Homo sapiens: one gene and its partner. The protein of the gene in region 2 binds, or shares a complex with, the protein of the main gene of each other region. Each region holds a gene or a part of one and is shown on either strand. Other genes may lie near its edges.

Region 1 (3,809 bases), on a different chromosome or scaffold from region 2:
TTGGGGCATGGGGTGTCACAAGGCCCCCCAGGGACTCGAGTGTGCAGGGGAGCTGGGGAAGCCCTGATCTTCTGACTAAAGCCCTCCACAGTCAGCCTGGGCGGGACACGGAGAAGCTAATACCATGGCCTGGGCTCAGCCAGGCTGGCATCTCCCAGACCAGCGCTCCCGTCCCTCACTGATGCAAATCCAGCTTGAATCTGTCACAATCTCACACTCTCATCAGCCGAACATTGCAGACAAAATCTCACAGCCATTCAAATGCAGCCACCTAGAAGTTAGCTCATGGTGGAACTCTCCTATCCCCAGGTGCTCCCTGCACAGGTGCTCCCTGCAGTGAGTCGCCAAGTGGGTGGGATTTTATCCTCTCATGACCTAAATCCAATAGATTGAAGATTCATACAGAACAGCATGAATTAAAAGAGAATCGGGGGCTGGGCACGGTGGCTTAGCCTGTAAACCCAGCACTTTGGGAGGCCAAGGTGGGTGGATCACCTGAGGTCATGAGTTCGAGACCAGCCTGGCCAACATGGTGAAACCCCGTCTCTCCTAAAAGTACAAAAATTAGCCAGGCGTGGTGGCAGGTGCCTGTAATCCCAGCTACTTAGGAGGCTGAGGCTGGTGAATCGCTTAAACCCAGGAGGTGGAGGTTGCAGTGAGCCAAGATTATGCCACTGCACTCCAGCCTGGGCAACAGAGTGAGACTCCATCTCAAAAAAGAAAAAAAAAAGAGAGAGAGAATCAGACCCACATCCCAGGGAAAGGCAAGGAGGCTAGTGGTAGTGTTTCCATCTAATTTAAATCCCTTCTGCTTTACAAACCCTAGAGACCACTTGGCACAAACTCCTGATTTTACAAGTAAGAGAACGTGAGCTCCAGGCAGTCAGAGCCTTGCACAGAATCCACTTGGACCAGGCCTGTGACGGGGCCCCTGGCTCCCAGCCCAGAGCTGCACAGCCAGGGAAGCACAGGCAAGTGGAGACAGGCGCATGCTGAGGCCGGGCTGGTGTTCCAGGACTTCGAGAAGCAGAGGCCTGGCGTGGGGATACAGTACCTGATTCCAATGCTTTGCAACTTGCTCCAGACACTCTTCCGGTAGAAAAAGAGCCTGTTCTTTTGAAACGTGGTCTCCGTGACATAAAAGAAAGACCTGAGCAGCTCGACGACGTACACACTCATCAGCCAGTGCAGGAACTTGGCCAGGATCTCCTCACGCAGACGGTGCTCTGCGGCCGGAACACAGCCAACCCCTTAAACGAGAAGGACATGCCACATCCAGATCACCGAGGGCCTGGTGACCTCACCCCGGACCTGCACCATCCGGACACCGCACATCCAGCTCACCAAGGGCCTGGCGACCTCACCCCAGACCTGCACCATCCGGACACGGCACATCCAGCCCACCAAGGGCCTGGCGACCTCACCCTGGACCTGCACCATTCGGACACGGGGACACCGCATATCCAGCTCACCGAGGGCCTGGCGAACTCACCCCGGACCTGCAGCATCCAGACACCACACATCCAGCTCACCGCAGGGCCTGGCGAACTCACCCCGGACCTGCACCATCCAGACAACACACATACAGCCCACCGCAGGGCCTGGCGACCTCACTCCGGACCTGCACCATCCGTACACTGCACATCCAGCTCACCGCAGGGCCTGGCGACCTCACGCCAGACCTGCACCATCCGGATACAGCACATCCAGCTCACCGCAGGGCCTGGCGACCTCACCCCGGACCTGCACCATCCGGATACAGCACATCCAGCTCACAGCAGGGCCTGGCGACCTCACCCCAGACCTGCACCATCCGGACACCACACATCCAGCTAACCGCAGGGCCTGGTGACCTCACCCCGGACCTGCACCATCCGACACCGCATATCCAGCTAACCGCAGGGCCTGGCGACCTCACGCCAGACCTGCACCATCCGGATACAGCACATCCAGCTCACTGCAGGGCCTGGCGACCTCACCCCGGACCTGCACCATCTGGATACAGCACATCCAGCTCACAGCAGGGCCTGGCGACCTCACCCCGGACCTGCACCATCCAGACACCGCACATCCAGCTAACCGCAGGGCCTGGTGACCTCACCCCGGACCTGCACCATCCGGACACCGCATATCCAGCTAACCGCAGGGCCTGGCGACCTCACCCCGGACCTGCACCATCCGGACACCCCACATCCAGCTCACCGAAGGCCTTGGCTACCTCACCCCGGACCTGCACCATCCAGACACCGCACATCCAGCTCACAGCAGGGCCTGGCGACCTCACGCCGGACCTGCACCATCCGGACACCACACATCCAGCCCACCAAGGGCCTGGCGACCTCACCCCAGACATGCACCATGCAGACACCGCACATCCAGCTCACCAAAGGCCTGGCGACCTCACCCCAGACCTGCACCATCCGGACACGGCACATCCAGCCCACCAAGGGCCTAGCGACCTCACCCTGGACCTGCACCATCCGGACACGGGGACACCGCACATCCAGCTCACCGAGGGCCTGGCGAACTCACCCCGGACCTGCAGCAACCGGACACTGCACAACCAGCTCACCGCAGGGCCTGGTGACCTCACCCCAGACCTGCACCATCCGGATACAGCACATCCAGCTCACAGCAGGGCCTGGCGACCTCACCCCGGACCTGCACCATCCGGATACAGCACATCCAGCTCACAGCAGGGCCTGGCAACCTCACCCCGGACCTGCATCATCCGGACTCCATACCTCCAGCTCACCGAGGGCCTGGCGACCACACCCCAGACCTGCACCATCCAGACGCCGCACATCCAGCTCACAGCAGGGCCTGGCGACCTCACCCCGGACCTGCATCATCCGGACTCCATACCTCCAGCTCACCGAGGGCCTGGCGACCACACCCCAGACCTGCACCATCCAGACGCCGCACATCCAGCTCACAGCAGGGCCTGGCGACCTCACCCCGGACCTGCATCATCCGGACTCCATACCTCCAGCTCACCGAGGGCCTGGAGACCTCACCCCTGACCTGCACCATCCGGACACCGCATATCCAGCTCACAGCAGGGTCTGGCGACCTCACCCCGGACCGGCACCATCCGGACTCCATACATCCAGCTCACCGAGGGCCTGGCGACCTCACTCCAGACCTGCACCATCCAGACACCGCACATCCAGCTCACCGCAGGGTCTGGCGACCTCACCCCGGACCTGCACCATCTGGACACTGCACATCCAGCTCACCGAGGGCCTGGCGACCTCACTCCAGACCTGCACCATCCAGACACCACACATCCAGCTCACAGCAGGGCCTGGCGACCTCACCCCAGACCTGCACCATCCAGACACCACACATCCAGCTCACAGCAGGGCCTGGTGACCTCACACCGGACCTGCAGCATCCGGACACCCCACATCCAACTCACAGCAGGGCCTGGCAACCTCACCCCAGACCTGCACCATCCGGACACCGCATATCCAGCTCACCGCACGGTCTGGCACCGTCTGGCGACCTCACTCCAGACCTGCACCATCCAGACACCGCACACCCAGCTCACCGCAGGGCCTGGTGACCTCACCCCAGACCTGCACCATCCAGACACCACACATCCAGCTCACAGCAGGGCCTGGCGACCTCACCCCGGACCTGCATCATCCGGACTCCATACCTCCAGCTCACCGAGGGCCTGGAGACCTCACCCCTGACCTGCACCATCCAGACACCACACATCCAGCTCACAGCAGGGCCTGGCGACCTCACCCCGGACCTGCATCATCCGGACTCCATACCTCCAGCTCACCGAGGGCCTGGAG
Region 2 (2,972 bases):
CTCGGCTCACTGCAACCTCCACCTCCCAGGTTCCAGGGGATTCTCCTGCCTCAGCCTCCCGAGTAGCTGGGATTACAGGCACACGCCACCACACCTGGCTAATTTTTGTATTTGTAGTAGAGATGGGTTTTGCCATGTTGGCCCAGGCTGGTCTCAGACTCCTGACCTCGGGTGATCTGCCCGCCTCAGCCTCCCAAAGCACTGGGATTATAGGTGTGAGCCATTGCACCCGGCCTCTTTCTTGGTTCTTAATACCAAATCGGAAGCAACCCTAGACCTTTCTTCCACTAATCTGTCACCAAGGCCTTCAGATTCCTGCATGTCCCCACCCTCAGCTTCGTTCTCCCGACTCACCCTGCCCCCCGCTCCTGCCAGGCCCACTATGTATAAATACATTAACCCTCTCCTTCTCTGTTCTTCTAGAGATCAGTGGTTTTGTGGTAATCACTGCCTCTGAGTACTTGATCTCACATCAGATGACAGGGCCCAAGGTGGATTGTGTAAGATACAGAACAAAAATGTAAAAACCAGAAAACAAACATAAAAGCATCACATTTCAAATAGGACATAAAGGTCCCTAGATTTTTAATCAAAATATTTTACAATTTTTGCTCTGCTAGCATGAGATCAACAAGAAAACCCAACAGGAATACATAAAAAACTTAACAAGTTGACTTTAATAAGTAAAAATTACAACATTCTTCTCCCAGCAATGAACAATTTCATTTTTTAAAAGTAAACGAGGCCTAAAACAAGAGGGCACAGGAACAAGTAGTCAGATGGATTTAGGTGAGCACTGTACACAAGCTTTGAGGAAGTGCAAAGGACTGACCTCTAGGCCAGAACAAGATGGAAAACTACCAGGCCCATCAGGCCTATAACCCAGACACCAGCATGGACAAAACTCAGTTATACTGAATTCAGAGACAAAATTCAGTGACACTCTTCTACCACTTATTTAGGGTTCTACAGCATTTCACTGAGCAGACTTAGTTTTTTGTTTTTGTTTTACAAACCTTTTAAACAGAGGGGATTTAAAAAATGCAAACTAGGACTACGATGTTAAGACAACCACTAGCAGACAGCTGCGGACAGTTACTGGGTCTGAAGGTGAGGCTTCCCAACTCAAACAGAGAAGTCATTGGGATAAACTCTGCCTCTTTCATCTTTCACCACCCATATCCTTAAAACAGGACAAGATGGGATGACCACACCAGGTAACATCACCGAGGTCTCAAAGTAGCAGCTAAAATGTGCCAGAACTCTTCACCCTGTCTAGGACCTATGTTCCACTCTCTCAGCAACAAAAGGATCTATAACATGTTTTCTCAATAAGGCTTTAGTTTCTCCTCCAGCTTCAAGTGGCCTTCACTACTCAGAAACCAATTCTACCTCTTTTGCTTTCTTCTTCTTCTTCTTCTTCTTGGTGGTATCACTGTCCTAGAAAGAAAGAGAATGAAAGCTCACAGATACCATCCACTAACAAAGCTATGACTCTCCCAGAAGGAAATCTGGTAAAGGTCCACAGTCAAGCAAGCCTTTTTCAGGACCTGTAAGGATATTTTGGGTTAAATGCTGCATGTGACACAAAGTTCTGTAAACCTTTCAGTGACACCCTAGTGGTCTACTTTTGGAAGTGGAAACATTCAGATCACCATCCTACACATCCTCTCCACCCACCATCAATAGAGCTCTAAGTATAAGTGGTAGAGGTCGGGTGCCTCTATCTGTCCATTCCACAGGGAGGGCAAAAGCACTCCAGGAACATGGGGAAGCACTAAAGGCACTCGGTGGCATCCCACCCCCAGGCCACAGCTCCTCCAAGAAGAGTAACAAAGCTGGTACCACCTGGGTAATTCTTTCCCCACGCAGGGACTAAGCCAGCCCAAGGAACCTGAACGTGTTTCCACACACCCCATCTCCAGGCTCGGCCCCGCTCTCCAGACCAGCTTTGGCCTTCTTGTCCTTCTTACTCTTCTTCTTTTCCTTCTTGATCAACTGAGGAGCTGCTGGAGGAGTCTCGTCACTTTCACTCTCACTCTCTCGCTTCCGCTGAGATGAAAGCAATTGGTTAAGTGTTAGATCTTGGGCAATAATGGACAAGAAAGGTTCAGTGAGTCAAAAGGTAGCAAGGCACCAAGAAAGATCCCAACTGAATCTAACAGGACGTTTTCTGACTACAAACCCGGACAGGGCCTTAGTTTACTGAGGATTTGAAGACAGTCTCATCCCCCAAATCCAAGAAGCCTTGAGGCAGGCACAAGAGAAGGAGCACAGCAGCAGCACGGGGCTTGGGGTGGAAAGGCCCGGAGGAGCTGTTTCTCTCATGACTGCAAGGACCTCTCACAGAAAGCAGGCAAAGCAGGAATTCACATCTGACAAGTCAGAAGCTCCTCCCACACAGCCTGTGCAGGATACTCAGTACCGCCCCCGGTTTCTGAGTGCAGACCTGTCATTCTGTGCTCTAATGCCAGCAGCTCCATGGGGTGGAGTTGCCAACCCATGCTTGACTGACTCTTTCAACACTGGGTGGTGCCAGGTTAAGATGCAATTCTGCTCTCTGCTGAATTTTGTATGGCCTCGAATGTCCAACAGCCATGGCCTCTGATTTCAACACATCTGTCCTACCATTTGACCCAGGGCGGGGGCCAGAATTGACACACACACCACCACCCATTCCATCACTGTGTTGCTGCCATAGCTGAGGTAGGAGTCGAGGCCCATCTGATTCCTGAGCCCACATTCCTCCTCCCAGCAGATAGGACAGAGAATACAAATCAGAGGAGCCTGCAGAGCCCAAACAAGCACCCCAGGGTATGAGGCAGCATTACCTGTGTATGCGCTGCACCTCTGATGCTAGCGTATATGGCTGGACTGCGGACAGTCACAAAGTAAGACGAATGCCAGTGCCTCTTAGGATTATCTCCCTAAGCACATTCCAAACTGAGGACAGCATGCCACTCACCTTCGCA

Evidence for each region.
Region 1: DKC1 (region 2) and TERT share a complex: the UniProt entries of both Homo sapiens proteins name them as parts of the telomerase holoenzyme complex.

Annotation. Positions count from the first base shown.
Region 1 is NC_000005.10:1,281,375-1,285,183, forward strand, and holds part of TERT (telomerase reverse transcriptase), read right to left. Parts: intron 1,251-3,809; coding exon 1,055-1,250; intron 1-1,054. UniProt on the Homo sapiens protein: Telomerase is a ribonucleoprotein enzyme essential for the replication of chromosome termini in most eukaryotes. Active in progenitor and cancer cells. Inactive, or very low activity, in normal somatic cells.
Region 2 is NC_000023.11:154,775,267-154,778,238, reverse strand, and holds the end of DKC1 (H/ACA ribonucleoprotein complex subunit DKC1), read right to left. Parts: coding exon 2,966-2,972; intron 2,053-2,965; coding exon 1,915-2,052; intron 1,441-1,914; coding exon 1,372-1,440; 3' UTR 550-1,371; downstream 1-549.